Regions from separate parts of the Homo sapiens genome. Here region 1 is linked to region 2. Evidence: fine-mapped expression QTL. Tissue or cell type: whole blood. Region 2 holds a variant in brackets; the other region holds the start of a gene. All regions are shown on one strand. Distances are from middle to middle.

Evidence for each region. PIP is the estimated chance that this variant, and not a neighbour inherited with it, causes the effect.
Region 1: CYP2S1 starts here. The variant in region 2 is fine-mapped to the expression of CYP2S1 in whole blood (TOPMed, PIP 0.93).

What each region holds. Positions count from the first base shown.
Region 1 is chr19:41,188,483-41,196,569 of GRCh38, reverse strand. CYP2S1 (cytochrome P450 family 2 subfamily S member 1) reads right to left here and starts at 3,351. Exons shown (of 9, transcript NM_030622.8): 1 at 3,129-3,351; 2 at 1,861-2,026. The coding sequence starts at 3,305. LOC124904790 reads left to right here and starts at 3,518. Exons shown (of 3, transcript XM_047439802.1): 1 at 3,518-3,590. The coding sequence starts at 3,518. It also overlaps the pseudogene RN7SL718P. RefSeq lists enhancers at 1,502-2,014, 3,325-3,825 and a silencer at 3,323-3,412.
Region 2 is chr19:41,229,592-41,237,694 of GRCh38, reverse strand. AXL (AXL receptor tyrosine kinase) reads right to left here. Exons shown (of 20, transcript NM_021913.5): 5 at 6,648-6,728; 6 at 6,397-6,512. Among named protein-coding and RNA genes, the nearest start is that of AXL, 14 kb to the right of the region's middle. The variant T/G (reference allele first, on the strand shown) is at 3,766.

The DNA of each region.
Region 1 (8,087 bases), 41 kb after region 2:
ATTACTCCTTCCTCCCCATCCCCTGGCCCCAGCCCTGGTCCATCACCGCGGACCTCCCAGCCTCCCCATCACCCTGGATCCTCCCTATCACCCTGGGCTCCTAGCCTCCAGTTTCATCCCCTTCAGGCAGCAACCACAGGATCTTCCCAACTCTGAATACAGCTGTTCCCTGCTTAAAATCGACTGCTCCCAGGAAAAACAAAAGCCCAAACACTCTGACGTGACTCACAGGCCCTGCATGACCAGGGATTTCCCTGGCTTCTCAGCTTTGTTACTTAACCCACTACGACTGCGCTGGTCTTCTCTCACTTCCTCAAGGGCGTCAGGATCCCCTGTCTAGGCCTATGATCCTGCAGTTCCCTCTGCCTCCATCACTCTCACCCCTTTCCATCCCATCCTTGGTGAACTAACTCGTTCATCCTTCATGTCCCGGCTTAAATGTCACCTTCTCTGAGAAGCCTTCCCTGATTCCCTCTTTACCCTCGTACATATGCCTGTGCCCTGTGTTTGCTCTCAAATCTGTACCTCTCATTTTAGGATTATATTCCCTCCCTCTATTGTCTTACTGCAGTATAAGCCCGCCTCTCCCACAGTAGGAGAGGACACCATATCTGCCTGAGTCATTTCTATGTACCTGGTACCCATGGTACCAGGTATAATGATTTTTTGTTTGTTTGTTTGTTTTGTGGAGGCAGGGTCTCACCATGTTGCCCAGGCTTGTCACAAATGCCTAGGCTCAAGTCATCCTCCCCATTCAGCCTTCCAAAGTGCTGGGATTACAGGCATGAGCCAGCGTGCCCAGTCTGAAAATTCATCAGTTGAATGGATGAATGCTTCTCTCAAAGTCATGCTTTTGTAGGTGCTGGTCTTTCTGCCTGGAACACCCTCCCCACTCATCTTATGAGTCTCAGCTCCGACAGCCTCTCTTCCAGGAAGACTTCCTGAAGCTCCCTCACCAAACATGCCGGGTCAGGTACCTCCTCTAAATTCCTACAGTCCCAGGGCTTCCCTCAGCCTGGCCCTGACCCCTCTTGCCCTGACCCCTCCCCATCCCACCCTGACCTTTCTCCCCGTGCTTCCCCATCTTGGCCCTGACCACTCTGGGCTGGGACTGTGTGGTGAGTCTGTTTCCCCACTGGCCTAGGTGCGCTGGGGAAGCAGCACCGGTGCTGTCTTAGTTACTACTGAGTTCCTGGCAGCACCCAGCATGGGCCTCCTGCTTTCTGTTGTAATACAGAGAACTGTTTCTATTATTCGAGGGCTTGCCCACCAATCCCCAGCACCTTGAAAGCGCTCCGGCATCTTTCTGAACCCTCAGGGCTTTACCTGGATCATTGATGGTTATCACTGATACTACAACCTGGTGATTAGTGAGTGCTCACTTTGCACAAGGCTCAGTCCTCACTCAATCACTCAATCCTACATGATGGGCACTGCTTTTTGTTTGTTTGTTTGAGATGGAGGCTCACTCTGTTGCCCAGACTGGAGTGCAGTGGCACAGTCTTGGTTCACTGCAACATCTGCCTCCCGGGTTCAAGCGATTCTCCTGCCTCAACCTCCCAAGTATCTGGGATTACAGGTACGCACCACCATGCCCAGCTAATTTTTATATTTTTAGTAGAGACAGGGTTTCACCATGTTGGCCAGGCTGGTCTCGAACTCCTGACCTCAAGTGATCCACCCACCTCCGCCTCCCAAAGTGTTGGGATTTCAGGCACTAGCCACTGCACCCGGCTGATGGGCACTGTTATCACTCCATTTGACAGATGAGGCAACAGAGGGACTAAGCCATGTGCAAAGGTCACACACCAGTAAGTGGTGGCAGGCTGTGAGCGGAGGGCCTAGCAGCCCTTGACTTACCATGGCCATCAAAAGTCCCTTCCAGCATCGCTACGGTTCCCCGGCCGCTGAACTCCTCAGCCTGACCTCCCAGGGCCTCCCGCACAGCCTCCTGCCCAACCAGGACCACCACAGGCCGCCAGGGTCCCAGGTAGATGGTGAACACCGGTCCGTACTTCTTACTCAGCTGGGGGTAGGGAGGAAGAAAGAGGAGGGTGCTGTGACCTCTTCGATCCAAGGTGTCTCCATCATGGCCCCTGTCACTTGAGGAGCCACCGGGTCTAGCTTCTACGCCCTCTACCAGGAACCTGCCCCCATCCCAGCAGAAATAGCTGAGGCTCAGTTCTCTTTTTGCACTAGGCTCCCGGGCCTCCTCCCCCAGTACATCCTTCAGTGGCATCCCCCAACTTCCTGTCGTTCCCTTGCTTCCTGCTGAACCCTAACCTCTGACGCTGGGCAATCCAGAAGCAGTTTGGGTCTCCCTTAATTCCTTAGGGCCCTCCCTGCCCCCCAAATATCCAGCCACCCCTTTCAGTCACCACAAAACCCTGAAATTCTGGAGCAGACACTGCTGAGTATCCGCCCCATCTCTCCCCCAAGACCCCACCCTTTTTTCTACGTCCTTGAAGTCACCCAGAATCCTTTTGAATGGGAAACTTCAGGCCTCTGCCCACTCCCACCTGCTATCCCCTAAGGCTGGGGCTGCCTCTGCCTTCTTTCTTGCTCTCCTTCCTCCCCAGTCCCAGGAACTCCCAACTGAGCTCCACCCATCCTCCCATCCTGCATTCTCTGCTGGCAGATTCCTTCAGCGGGACCCCCTCTCTGAGCCTGCAACCCTCCAGCCTCTTCTCTGCCTCCAACTCCCCGCAGGGACGCCTCCCCCTTTTCTTCTTTGTGCCCTCTTCAGCATGCCCCACCTGTATGGCTCCAGCTACCTCTCCCTCTGGGACAAGCCCAGCTGCATCAGCTTCTCCTCGGCTGGAGGACTCCTGTCTCTTTCAGCCTCGGTCCCTGCCCATCACCTTCCCAGGATTCTGTAGGCAGAGGTCTCTGCCCCTCCTAGCCCTGGTCCCCCACCCCACGATCCTCTCTCCCGGGCACCTCTCCCCTTCTCAGCCCTGGACAACCTGCTCCTGCCCCCAACCCCAGGACAGCAGCAGCCCCTTTGCCTTGGGACCCCTGCCCCTGCCTCCTCCCTAGGATACCCGAAAAGCCCCTCACCCTGGCACTCGGGTTTCTCTCCCAGGAATCCTCCCACCCCTAGCCAGGACGTCCCCAGAGCCCCTTACCCGCATGAGCCCTGAATACAGCGCCCCGGGCCGTAGCTGCAGGAGGTTTCCCAGCAGTGGTAGCGGCGTGGGCCCGGGGGGCAGGTGGCCTCGGGCCCTGGTCCCGGACAGCGCCAGCGTCAGCAGCAGGAGCAGCGCCAGCGCCAGCAGCAGCGCCCAGGTGCCGGTCGCCTCCATCTCGGCAGGTCGGCTCCTTCTCCTCTCCCAGGCGCTCCGCGCGGCTGGGCTAGTTAGGGGCGGGAGCCGGGCGTCTCCCTCCCCAACGAAGTCAGGCGCGGGGCGGGGCAGCTAGCCCAGCCCCCTGCCTCCTGGGCAGGCTTATCTCCCCGCCGCCGGGTTTCTCCCGGACCACCGCCGCCGCCTGATGTCGGGAACTCATGCTCCAACGGATGTCTCCGAGGTCACCCAGGTTTACGCGGGGCTTGGGCGGCGGAGACAGCGCCTTGGGCCCCCGGATAGGGAGTAAGCAAACAGAAGAACCTGGAAGTCAGAGACTTTGGCCGCCTGGAGGTTGCCACACCCCGCATCTGGCGGTGACCCCGCGCCACTCTCCCCAGCTCCTACCTCGCTCATTGTTCGGATGTGGGTTCCTGTGTGCGTGCGTGTATGGGGTGTCTTTGAGTCAATTTTCTCCAGCATCTTACATCTTCACGAACTGAGAGGAAGGACTTGACCTTTAAGGATAAACAATCTGAAGTCCAGGGAGATAAATCGGTTGGCCCCAGGTCAACTTGGCTGAGTGGCAGAGTTAATATTTTGACTTGGGCCAGTTAGAATGATTGAGTCATTCATTCATTCGTTTAGAGGCAGTTTGCAGAGCGGTTAGGACCGTGATGGCTGAAGCCAGACTGCTTGAATTCACAGCCTAATTCCTCTGTGCCTCTGTTAGCCTTGTAAAATGGGGCTAGTTTTCAGGATTAAATAGTACATCTGTGCACACCATTTAAAGCAGACGCAGGTGCACATGTAACAAGCACTAAATAGATGTTAGCTAATATTTCTGCAACTAACTGTTATTGAGGTCTTACTATAAACAAGACCTTGTTCTAGACCCGAGGGTGCAGCTATGAGCGATGGAGAGAAGGGCTCTGGCCTTCCTGAGCTCATATCCACATGCAGATGAAGATGAGATGAAAACAATTTCAGGAAGTGAGAAGGCCTGCCAGGGGAATGGGCTTCTTGAGAAGGAAGAATGTTAGAACCATTTGTGCATGAATTATTGTAGGTTTGGTTCACTGCTGTATCCCCAACATATAGTGCAGTGCCTGACACACAGTAGGCACTCAATAAATATTTGTTATATTTTCAAAGATTGAATGTAGGAGATAAGATTCATGAAGTCTGCAGGGGCCATCTTGCAAGGTCTTGGAAAAGACTGCATTTTATTTCTATTGCAAACGGAAGCTGTCTGGAGGGGTTTTCAGCAGGGCAGTTACTTTGTTTGCTTTGCATTTTGATTTCGTATTTTATTATAAAAATATTAAAATTTCAAACATACAGTGAACACCTGTATACCCATCAGATTCCACCATTTTATTATCCTTTCTTTGTTACCTATCTATTCTTTTTTTGTTTGAGATAGAGTCTCACTCTGTTGCCCAGAGTGGAGTGCAATAGCATACAGTCTTGGCTCATTGCAACCTCTGCCTCCCGGGTTCAAGCAATTCTCCTGCTTCAGCCTCTCAAGTAGCTGCGATTACAGGCGTGCACCACCATGCCTGGCTATTTTTTGTATTTTTAGTAGAGACGGGGTTTTTGCCATGTTGACCAGGCTGGTCTCAAACTCCTGACCTCAGGTGATCTTCTCACCTCAGCCTCCCAAAGTGCTGGGATTACAGGCATGAGCCACTGTGCCTGGCCCTTTTTTCATTACATATCTGTTCATTTTGCCTATCCATTGATTTTTTTTTAAGCATTTCAAAGTCAGTTGCAGATACCAGTACACTTCACTCCCAAATACATCAGCATGCATATCAGTAGCTAGAGCTCAGTATTTGTTTACAGATACTTTTTGTTCCTCAAGGTATCTTATATACAATGAAATACATAACTCTTAAGTGTATAATTAGATGAGCTTTGAGTTGCATATGCTGGAGTTTTAAAATATTAGATTCTTTGGGAGGCTGAGGCGGGCGGATCACGAGGTCAGGAGATCGAGACCATCCTGGCTAAAATGGTGAAACCCCGTCTCTACTAAAAATACAAAAAATTAGCCGGGCGTAGTGGCGGGCGCCTGTAGTCCCAGCTACTTGGGAGGCTGAGGCAGGAGAATGGCGTGAACCCGGGAGGCGGAGCTTGCAGTGAGCCGAGATCCCGCCACTGCACTCCAGCCTGGGCGACAGAGCGAGACTCCGTCTCAAAAAAAAAAAAAAAAAAAAAAAAATTAGATTCTTAGAATTTTCACAATCTTTTTTTGAGACAGGGTCTCGCTCTGTTGCCCAGGCTGGAGTGCAGTGGCACGATCTTGGCTCACTGCAATCTCTGCCTCCTGGGTTCATGTGATTCTCCTGCCTCAGCCTCCTGAGTAGCTGGGATTACAAGCGCCCACCACCACTCCCAGCTAACTTTTGTATTTTTAGTAGAGTTGGGGTTTCACCATGTTGGCCAGGCTGGTCTCGACCTCCTGACCTCAGGCAATTTACCCACCTCGGCCTCCCACAGTGCTGGGATTACAGGCATGAGCCACTGCCCCCGGCCTGCAATCTTGCAATTTGTATTCTAGTCCAGAGCCCTTTCTCTCAAGAGCATAGCCAGAGTGCTCCCTGGAGTCTGGGGAATCCTTGACTGTGGTCTTCTTTAGCATTGATTCTAGCCTCTAACATTCCAGGGGTGCCCTGAAGCCAAAGGAGGAGGGGTGGGGAGGCTCATACGCTCTTGCTATGAAGTAAATGCCAGTTCTCAGTTCCTCCTTTGCCTTGTTCTGGAAGGTTTCTAGGACGTTCCAAATCCAACCTTGAGCCTATCTGCTCCCTCTGTTCTACCCCTGGGAGAGCTAACAGACATCTCAAACTTCATGGATATAAAAGAATTCCCGATTCCCCCACCTCCTGCAAAGTGGGCTGTACCAGCTTCCCACCCCATCTGGGAATACTTTCTCTCACCTCCTTCCTTACCTCTGTAAAAGGTATCACCATCTTTTCACTTGCTGATGACAACAAAATATAGGAGAGGCCGGGCGCGGTGTCTCATGCCTGCAATCCCAGTACTTTGGGAGGCTGAGGTGGGCAGATCACCTGAGGTCAGGAGTTTGAGACCAGCCTGGCCAACATGGTGAAACCCCGTCTCTACTAAAAATACAAAATTAGCCAGGTGTGGTGGTGCATGCCTGTAATCCCAGCTACTCAGGGAGGCTGAGGCAGGAGAATCGCTTGAATCCGGGAGGCGGAGGTTGCAGTGAGCCGAGATCGCGCCATTGCACTCCAGCTTGGGCAACAAGAGTGAAACTCCGTCTCAAAAAAAAAATAGGAGGAGGGGAAAAAATTAGTTTCATTAGACAACACATCCTTCTGGGTTATCAGATTCTGGTCTTGTTCATTGTTTTTACAGCCATCTTTCCCCCTGATGCAATAGTCTTTCTGCATAATGTCTCTACTCGCCTGAGACCACATCTGTTTTTATTTGTCAGGTTTAACCTTGATTTCTCTCTTTGACTTTAAACCCAGTTTGTCAGCAAATCCTGCTGGCTCTACCTCCAAATACATTCCAAATTTATCCATTTCCTCCTTTCCCTACCACCCTGATCCAACTGACACCAGCCCTGATTCAAGGTACTGTCATTGCTTGCCAGGATTTTGCAGTAGCTTCCCCACTGAGCTACCTGCTTCCTCTCTCCTTCTCCCCCTCCTCCACAATTCATTCACTGGATGCCAGCCAGAAAGGTCTTTTTAAATGCAAGGAGAAAACTAATCTACGGTGGGAGGGAAGAGGGATCAGTACAGACTCCAGGGAGCATTCTCGTTTTGTTTTTGAGACAAAGGTCTCCAGCCTAGAATAAAAATAGAAAGACTGTTGACCAGGCACAGTGGCCAAGGCGGGTGGATCACCTGAGGTCAGGAGTTTGAGACCAGCCTAGCCAGCGTGGTGAAATCCTGTCTCTACTGAAAATATAAAAATTAACCGGCCAGGCGCAGTGGCTCACGCCTGTAATCCCAGTACTTTGGGAGACCGAGGTGGGTGGATCACGGGGTCAGGAGTTCAAGACCAGTCTGGCCAAGATGATGAAACCCCGTCTCTACTAAAAATACAAAAATTAGCCAGACGTGGTGGTGGGCACTTCTAATCCCAGCTAGTCGGGAGGCTGTGGCAGAGAATTGCTTGCTTGAACCCACAAGGCGGAGGTTTCAGTGAGCTGAGATCTCCCCACTGAACTCTAGCCTGGGCGACAGAACGAGACTCCGTCTCAAAAAAAAAAAAAAAATTAACTGGATGTGGTGGTGCACGCCTGTAGTCCCCAGCCACTGGGGTGGCTGAGGCAGGAGAATCACTTGAACCCAGGAGGTGGAGGTTGTAGTGAGCCAAGATTGTGCCACTGTACTCCAGCCTGGGCGATAAAGTGAGACTCAGTGTCAAAAAAAAAAAAAAAAAAAAAAAAAAAATATATATATATATATATATATGGCAAGATTATTATAAAGATTCCATGTCTAATGTTTAAAGATGATGATTGCAACATCCTATAGATAAGAAAACTTAAAAGTTCTTGCCGGGCGTGGTGGCTCACGCCTGTAATCCCAGCACTTTGGGAGGCCGAGACGGGCAGATCACGAGGTCAGGAGATCAAGACCATCCTGGCTAACGCGGTGAAACCCCATCTCTACTAAAAATACAAAAAATTAGCCGGGCGTGGTGTCAGGCGTCTATAGTCCCAGCTACTCGGCAGGCTGAGGCAGGAGAATGGCGTGAACCTGGGAGGTGGAGCTTGCAGTGAGCTGAGATTGTGCCACTGCACTCCAGCCTGGG
Region 2 (8,103 bases):
AGTTTTTTCCTTGGGCACACGGGGCCTTAGAGGATCAAGTGCCTTACAGGATTGTTTAAAGATTAAGTGTAGTTATGCCCAAAGGATGCCACAGTGCATGGCGGGTGGTCAGCACCGATAATAATAGTGTGATGACAATAATAACGCAAATAGACTGGGCACGGTGGCTCCCGCCTGTAATCCCAGCACTTTGGGAGGCCAAGGTGGGCGATCACTTGAGGTTAGGAGTTCAAGACCAGCCTGGCCAACGTGGTGAAACCCCATCTCTTCCAAAAATGTAAAAAATTAGCTGGATGTGGTGGCGCTCGCCTGTAATCCCAGCTACTCGGGAGGCTGCGATAGGAGAACCACTTGAACCTGGGAGGCAGAGGTTACAGTGAGCTAAGATCACACCACTGCACTCCAGCCTGGGTAACAGAGCAAGACTCTGTCTCAAATAATAGTAATGATCATCATAATAATAGCACGATACTGTGAGGCCCCATTTATATGACATTATACTACAGGCAAAAGCAATGTTCTAGAAGCAGAAGGGTGGCCATCTCTGGGGCCTGAGGGAGACTTCTTGGGGACTGGAAGGGTCTGTGTCTTGATTTGGATGGTGGTTACATGGTGAATATGTGTGTTAAACAATCTCAAAGGTGTCCAATCTTTTGACTTTCTTGGACCACAGTGGAAGAAGAATTGTCTTGGGCCACACATAAAATACGCTAACACTAACGATAGCTGATGCGTTAAAAAAAAAAATCACAAACAAATCTCATAATGTTTTAAGAAAGTTTACGAACTTATGTTGGGCCGCATTCAAAGCCATCCTGGGCCACATGTGTTAGACGAGCTTGATCTAGAGGTACACTGAAGATTATGCATGTTATACATCTCATTTCTTTTTCTTTTTTTTTTTTTTTCCTTTTTTTGGAGAGGGAGTCTTGCTCTGTCGCCCAGGCTATAGTGCAGTGGTGAGATCTTGGCTCACTGCAACCTCCGTCTCCTAGGTTCAAGCAATTCTTCTGCCTCAGCCTCCCAAGTAGCTGGGACTACGCGTACCACCACGCCCGACTAATTGCCGTATTTTCAGTAGAGACAGCGTTTCACCATGTTAGTCAGGCTGGTCTCAAACTCTTGACCTCAGGCAATCCGCCCGCCTCAGCCTCTCAAAGTGCTGGGATTACAGGTGTGAGCCACCGTGCCCGGCCTATGAGTCTCATTTCATCACCTGAGCTGGAGTGCAGTGGCGTGATTTCGGCTCACTGCAATCTCCGCCTCCCAGGTTCAGGCAATTCTCATGCCTCGGCCTCCCAAGTAGATGGGATTACAGGCGTGAGCAACCATGCTTGACTAATTTTTTTTTTTTTTTTTTTTTAGACAGAGTCTTGCTCTGTCACTCAGGTTGGAGTGCAGTGGTACAATCTCGGCTCACTGCAACCTCCGCCTCCTGGGCTCAAGTAATTCTTCTGCTTCAGCCTCTCGAGTAGCTGGGGCTACAGTCATGTGCCACCATGCCTGGCTAACTTTTTTGTATTTTTAGTAGAGACGAGGTTTCATCATGTTGGTCAGGCTGGTCTTGAACTCCTGATCTCAAGTGATCCGCCCCCCTCGGCCTCCCAAAGTGCTGGGATTACAGGTGTGAGCTACCACACCCGGCTTTTTTTTTATTCTGTGTAGAGAAAGGGTTTCACCATGTTGCCCAGGCTGGTCTCAAACTCCTGACCTCAGGTAATCCACCTGCCTCGGCCTCCCAAAGTGCTGGGATTACAGGCGTGAGCCACCTCACCTGACTATGTTATATATTATCTTAATAAAAAAAGATAAAACACGTCCAACATGTACTGAGTGCCTTTCTTAGCCCTTGACAAATCTGAATTCATTTGGCCCTCACATCAATCCTGTTGTCCTGTGGTAAGCATTATGCTTATTCCCACTGTACAGATGACAACACTGAGGCCCAGAGAGACGGAATCACTTGTTCAAGGTCATCAGTTTGTCACTGATGAAGCTGGGACCTAAACCCCATCCTGTCCCCAGAGTCTTTGCTCTACTGGCGGTAAGAATATCAGTAATGGTAACAATACCTCTTGTCTGTGCACAGAGGCAGTTTAGCCTAGTGCTGAGGAGCACGGATGCTGGATCTGGGGCTCAAATCCAGGCTCTATCATTCCCTAGCTGTGTGCCTCAGTCTTCTCACCTGTAAAATGGGATGACAGTGGCTCCCCACTTCACAGGGTTGACTGAATTGGGGCATGTAAGCATTTAGAAGACTGCTTGTGCATACTGTCATTTATTATCTATCTATCTATCTATCTATCTATCTATCTATCTATCTATTTATTTATTTATTTATTTGAGATGGAGTTTCGCTCTTGTTGCCCAGGCTGGAGTACAATGGCATGATCTCGGCTCACTGCAACCTCCGCCTCCCAGGTTCAAGTGATTCTCTTGCCTCAACCTCCTGAGTAGCTAGGATTACAGGCATGCACCACCACACCCGGCTAATTCTGTATTTTTAGTAGAGACAGGGTTACTCCATGTTGGTCAGGCTGGTCTCAAACTCCCTACCTCAGGTGATCTGCCCGCTCAGCCTCCCAAAGTGCTGGGATCACAGGCACGAGCCACCGTGCCCGGCCTGTCACTTATTATTTTATGTGTGTTTCCTGGCAACAAGTGTCAAGCTCTGCATAGCGGCACAGGTTCCCATACCTATTCCACCCGAGGAATGGCACACTCAGAGTGGAGGGGGCCACCACTGGTGTACACATCTGTATAGCCCTGCCACATGGAACCACAAAACCCCCATAACCACACAATTCACAGCCACGCCTCAGGAATGGTGCAGCCAAGGGCTTCCCCTTCACCCTGGAGACTCCAGCCATACAGCCACACAGTATGTCAGGAAGGAGTTTACTGCCACAGGGTGTGGGCTCTAAAGCCAGATTCCTTGGATCTAAGTCCTGTGTTGGATGTTGTTTGCTGTGTGACCTAGAGTGAGTGTCTTAACTTCTCTGAGTCTCAGTTTCTGTCTCTGGAAAATGGGCATCACAGTTCTTACTTGTCAGGGTATAAGGTTTAATGACATGATGCATATAAACTGCTTTGCACATTATAATTATCAACAGCTAACGTTTGTTTTCTTTCTTTCTTTCTTTTTCTTTTTTCTTTTTTTTAGGCAGGGTCTCACTCTGTCACACAAGCTGGAGTGCAGTGGTGTAATGACAGCCCCACCTAATTTTTTAATTATTTGGAGAGATGGCGTTTCACCATGTTGGCCAGGCAGGTCTCAAACTCCTGGGCTCAAGCGATCCACCTGCCTCGGCCTCCCAAAGGTCTAGTATTACAGGTGTGAGCCATGGCACCCGGCCTAGCAAATATTTCTTGAGTGCCAAATATGTACCAAGCTCTCTGTCAAGCACATTACTGGATGAACTCATTGACTTCGCACTACCACCCTATGGGGTCAATTTCTTTTCTCATCCCCATTTTACAGACAGGGAAGCCAAGGCCCAGAGAGGTTCAGCAACTTGCCCAAAGTCACACAGCCCCCATGGAGGGAGATGACACCACCATGAGACCTGGGGAGGAGTGGGGGCAGATGGTGGGTACGAGGAGGGGGTGAGGCTGTCACCATGCCTGCTCTCTGACCTGCAGTGACAGACAGGAAGAGGAACCTCTACCAGGACAGAGAGGAGATGGGTACAGACAGTTGGTCTCCCCATGCCTGCTCCCACTTCTCTTTTCCCTGGGACGGCTGTGACCCTCCCACTGGAACTC[T/G]TCAGCCCTAGCCCATGTGCAGCAGGAAGTGAGACCTGGAAAGGGAAGAGGACACACTTCTGCTTTCCTGGGGACACTTGGTGATGTGGGTAGAGTGCAACTTATGCCTGACCTGGCATTTGAGGTCTCCCAAATCCAGCTGGCCTCTGGGATTGAATCTCAGCTTCGGCTTTCTAGCCCCGGGGAGGGGAGGAGGATGGGAGGAACTGAGGCCCAGAGAGGGGGCCCCTCTCTGGGCCTCAGTTCCTCACCTTGAAAACGGGAAGATTAATAGCCACTGTTTTTTGTTTTTTTTTTTCTCAGACAGAGTCTTACTCTGTCACCCAAGCTGGAGAGCAGAGGTTCAATCCTGCCTCACTGTAGCCTTGACTGCCAGGCTCAGGTGATTGTCCCACTTCAGCCTCCCGAGTATCTGGGACTACAGGTGTGTGCCACCACACTGAGCTAATTTTTTTGAATTTTTTGTACAGACCTGCCTCAGCCCCCCGAAGTGCTGGGATTACAGGCGTGAGCTATCATGCCCAGCCAATAGCCACTATTTTCTAGGTTTAAAACGACAAGCAGATGGGGTTGTGCTCAGAGCATGTAAGTATAAGACAATTCCTGTTTAATCAAGCACTGACTCTAAACATTTTCTCAGGGCCCAGCGCGGTGCCTCACGCCTGTAATCCCAGCACTTTGGGAGGCCGAGGTGGGCGGGTCACTTGAGGTCAAGAGTTCGAGACCAGCCTGACCAACATGGTGAAACCCTGTCTCTACTAAAAATACAAAAATTAGCTGGGCGTGGTGGTGGGCGCCTGTAATACCAGCTACTCAGGAGGCTGAGGCAAGAGAATTGCTTGAACCTAGGAGGCGGAGGTTGCAATAAGCCGTGATCACGCCACAGCACTCCAGTCTGGGTAACAGAGCGAGACTCTGTCTCAAAAAAAAAAGAAAAGAAAAAACAAAAAACAGTTTCTAAGGAGGTTAGGAGCATGACATGGGTTTGATGTGACCTTGGACAATCTGGTTAACCACTCTGAGCCTTAGTTTCTTCATCTGGAAAATGGGTGTATCCATAGACCCTCCTTCACAAACACACGAGCAGGTGTGCGTTAATGCAAGACCCGGTGCACAGCGGACACTCAGTAGAAATTGGTCATTCTTCATTACTGTCATCTACCATCATAGGCACTGTCCACCCCCCATCTCCAACTTTCTAATCTCAGAGAACTTCAGACCAGAATTAGGCCTTATATTTACAGATCTGTGAGTTTTGTTTTGGTTTTGGTTTTCTTCTTTCTTTCTTTCTTTTTTTTTTTTTCTTGAGACGGAAGTTCGCTCGTGTTACCCAAGCTGGAGTGCAATGGCACGATCTCGGCTCACTGCAACCTCTGCCTCCAGGGTTCAAGGGATTCTCCTGCCTCAGCCTCCTGAGTAGCTGGGATTACAGGTGTGTGCCACCACACCCGGCTAATTTTTTGTATTTTTAGTAGAAATGGGGTTTCACCATGTTAGCCAGGCTGGTCTCGAACTCCTGACCTCAGGTGATCCACCAGCCTTGGCCTCCCAAAGTGCTGGGGTTACAGGTGTAAGCCACCACACCTGGCCTGGTTTTGGTTTTCTTATTCTAGGAGCAACTTGAGGGCAGAGGCTGGGTCTAGCTCATCTGGGTTGTAATATATCCTTCTAGCGAATATTCCCTACTCTATGTCTGGTCCTGTGCTGGGCAAGAATGAGGAGCCAGTGGTGACTGGGACAGCTCCAGCCCTGCCCTGTCAGAGCTCACATTCCAGTAGGGGACAGACCCATCCCCAGACAGTGACCACACAGAGTGGCCAGGGCTGGGATGGGAGAAGTGGAGGGTTCTGGGTATCCAGTGGTGACAGAAATGGCTCCAGACTCTGCTGTCTCAGGGCTCCCACTCTGGCTAGAGTTAACATCACTAATACTGAAAATAATTAAAACAGCTGATCATTTTCATTTTGTTAAATTTTTTTTGTTGTTGTTTCTTTTTTTTTTTTGAGACAGAGTCTCGCTCTGTCACCCAGGCTGGAGAGCAGTGGCACGATCTTGGCTCACTGCAACCTCCGCCTCCCAGGTTCAAGCAATTCTCCTGCCTCAGCCTCCCCAGTAGCTGGGACTACAAGTGCGTCCCACCAGGCCCAGTTAATTTTTGTATTTTTAGTAGAAATGTGGTTTCACTATGTTGGCCAGGCTGGTCTCGAACTCCTGACCTCAAGTGATCCGCCCACCTCGGCCTCCCAAAGTGCTGGGATTACAGGTGTGAGCCACCGCGCCTGGCCAATTTTGTTAAATTTGTTTCCTATGTTCTATATACCATTTTAAGTTGGTAATTTGCATTCACTCATTGAATTTTCACACTAAGCATACCAGGTAGGCACTACCATTATGTCCATTTTGTAGACAAGAGAGCTGAGCCCCGGACAGATTAAGCCACCTACCCAAGGTCACACAGCCAGAAGGTGGTGGAGCTAGGATTCGAACCCAGGACATCTGGCTTAACCCCCCAGGCTCTACTGCTTCTCAACAGTGGCCGAGAAGTGGTGGGTTCCCAGGGAGAGGATGGGGGTTGTGGATGTGGGTGGAAGGAGGCCTGAGACTGAAATGAACCAAGTTTGGGAGTCTCACCTGCAGGGTGCAGTGGGTCAGGGGGTAGATGCCGCTCAGGCCTGGAGTCCAAGCCACCTCCAGCTCCGTGGGTTGGCGGGAGACCAGGTGGAGGTTACGGGGCTGCTGGGGGAGCACTGTGGACAAACGGGAGAGATTGACCCTGGGGAGCCTTTGCTCAAAGCTCCCTACCCTGCTCTCTGCCCCCACTCTGACCCCGGACCCAAACCCCACCCTCTGACGCCCAGCTCCCCACCTCCCAACTCTGTCACCTGTGATGGTGGCTGTGCGGGATGTGGTGACCCCCTTGGCGTTATGGGCTTCGCAGGAGAAAGAGGATGTCTTGTTCAGCCCTAGGGAGTCATATGAGGGAAGGGTCCAATATCAGAGAGGGGCAGGAAGGGCTCCGGGGCCATGCCGGGCCACTCCTACCATGGCCTGCCTGACCAGGGGCAGTGCAGCCCACACAGGCACTTGCCTGAAGGGAGGGTTAGCAGAGTTGAGGGCAATGAGTTAGGAACACAGCCTCCATCCCCAAACACAAGGATGGCTTGGTTTCAGCCCTAACCTCCCGCCACACAGACACACATAGTACAGACACACACAGACACACACAGGCACAGGCACAGGCACACACACTGTCTCACACACACATTCTTACACCCCAGAGACAGACACACTCATACACACACATAGACACACATACTCACACAGAAACACACAAAGACACACACAGCCACACACAGGCACAGGCACACACACTCATACACACAGACACACAGACACAGACACACACAAAGACACACAGCCACACACAGGCACAGGCATACACACACAAAAACACACATACACAAACACACATGAAGACACACAACCACACACAGTCACAGGCACACTCACTCTTACACCCCAGATAGAGACACACACTCATACACACACATAGACACATATGCTCAGACACACACACAGGCACAGGCGCATACACACACACACACACATTCTTACACCCCAGAGAGAGATACATACTCATACACACACATGCTCACACAGACTCACACACAGTCACACACAGGCACACACACACATTCTTACACCCCAGAGACACATACTCATACACACACATATAAACACATATGCTCACACACAGACACAGACACAGACACAGAAACAGACACAGCCACACACACACACTGTGTCTCACACACACAGATTCGTACACCTAGATACTCACATACTCATATACACATATATAGACACACACAGAAATACACGTGCTCATATATATGGACATAGACACATATATACATACTCACACATAGACACACAAAAGCATACACAGACACACACACACAAGGAGACACACAAACATGCACACACTCACATGCACAAACACAGGCACCCTCACTAACTCACAAGGACACAAGTATGAGCACACACACCTGCTAGACACACTTAGGGAAACTGGCCCATGGCTGTACATCAATGGAGACATGTCTGTTCATCTCTAAGCTCGCCTCCTACCAACCCCTCTCCCACTCTCCCTGTCACACGCTCTTCTCCGGCCACACTGGCCTCCAGTGTCTCTGGAACACATACATGAAGCATGTTTCCACTCCAAGAACTGTGCACTGTTCCCTGTGCTCAAAACAGTCTTCCACAAATGTCTACATGACTCGCACCCTCTTCTTTCATTTTTGTTCCTCAACAACACCTCTCAGTCCGCTAGGC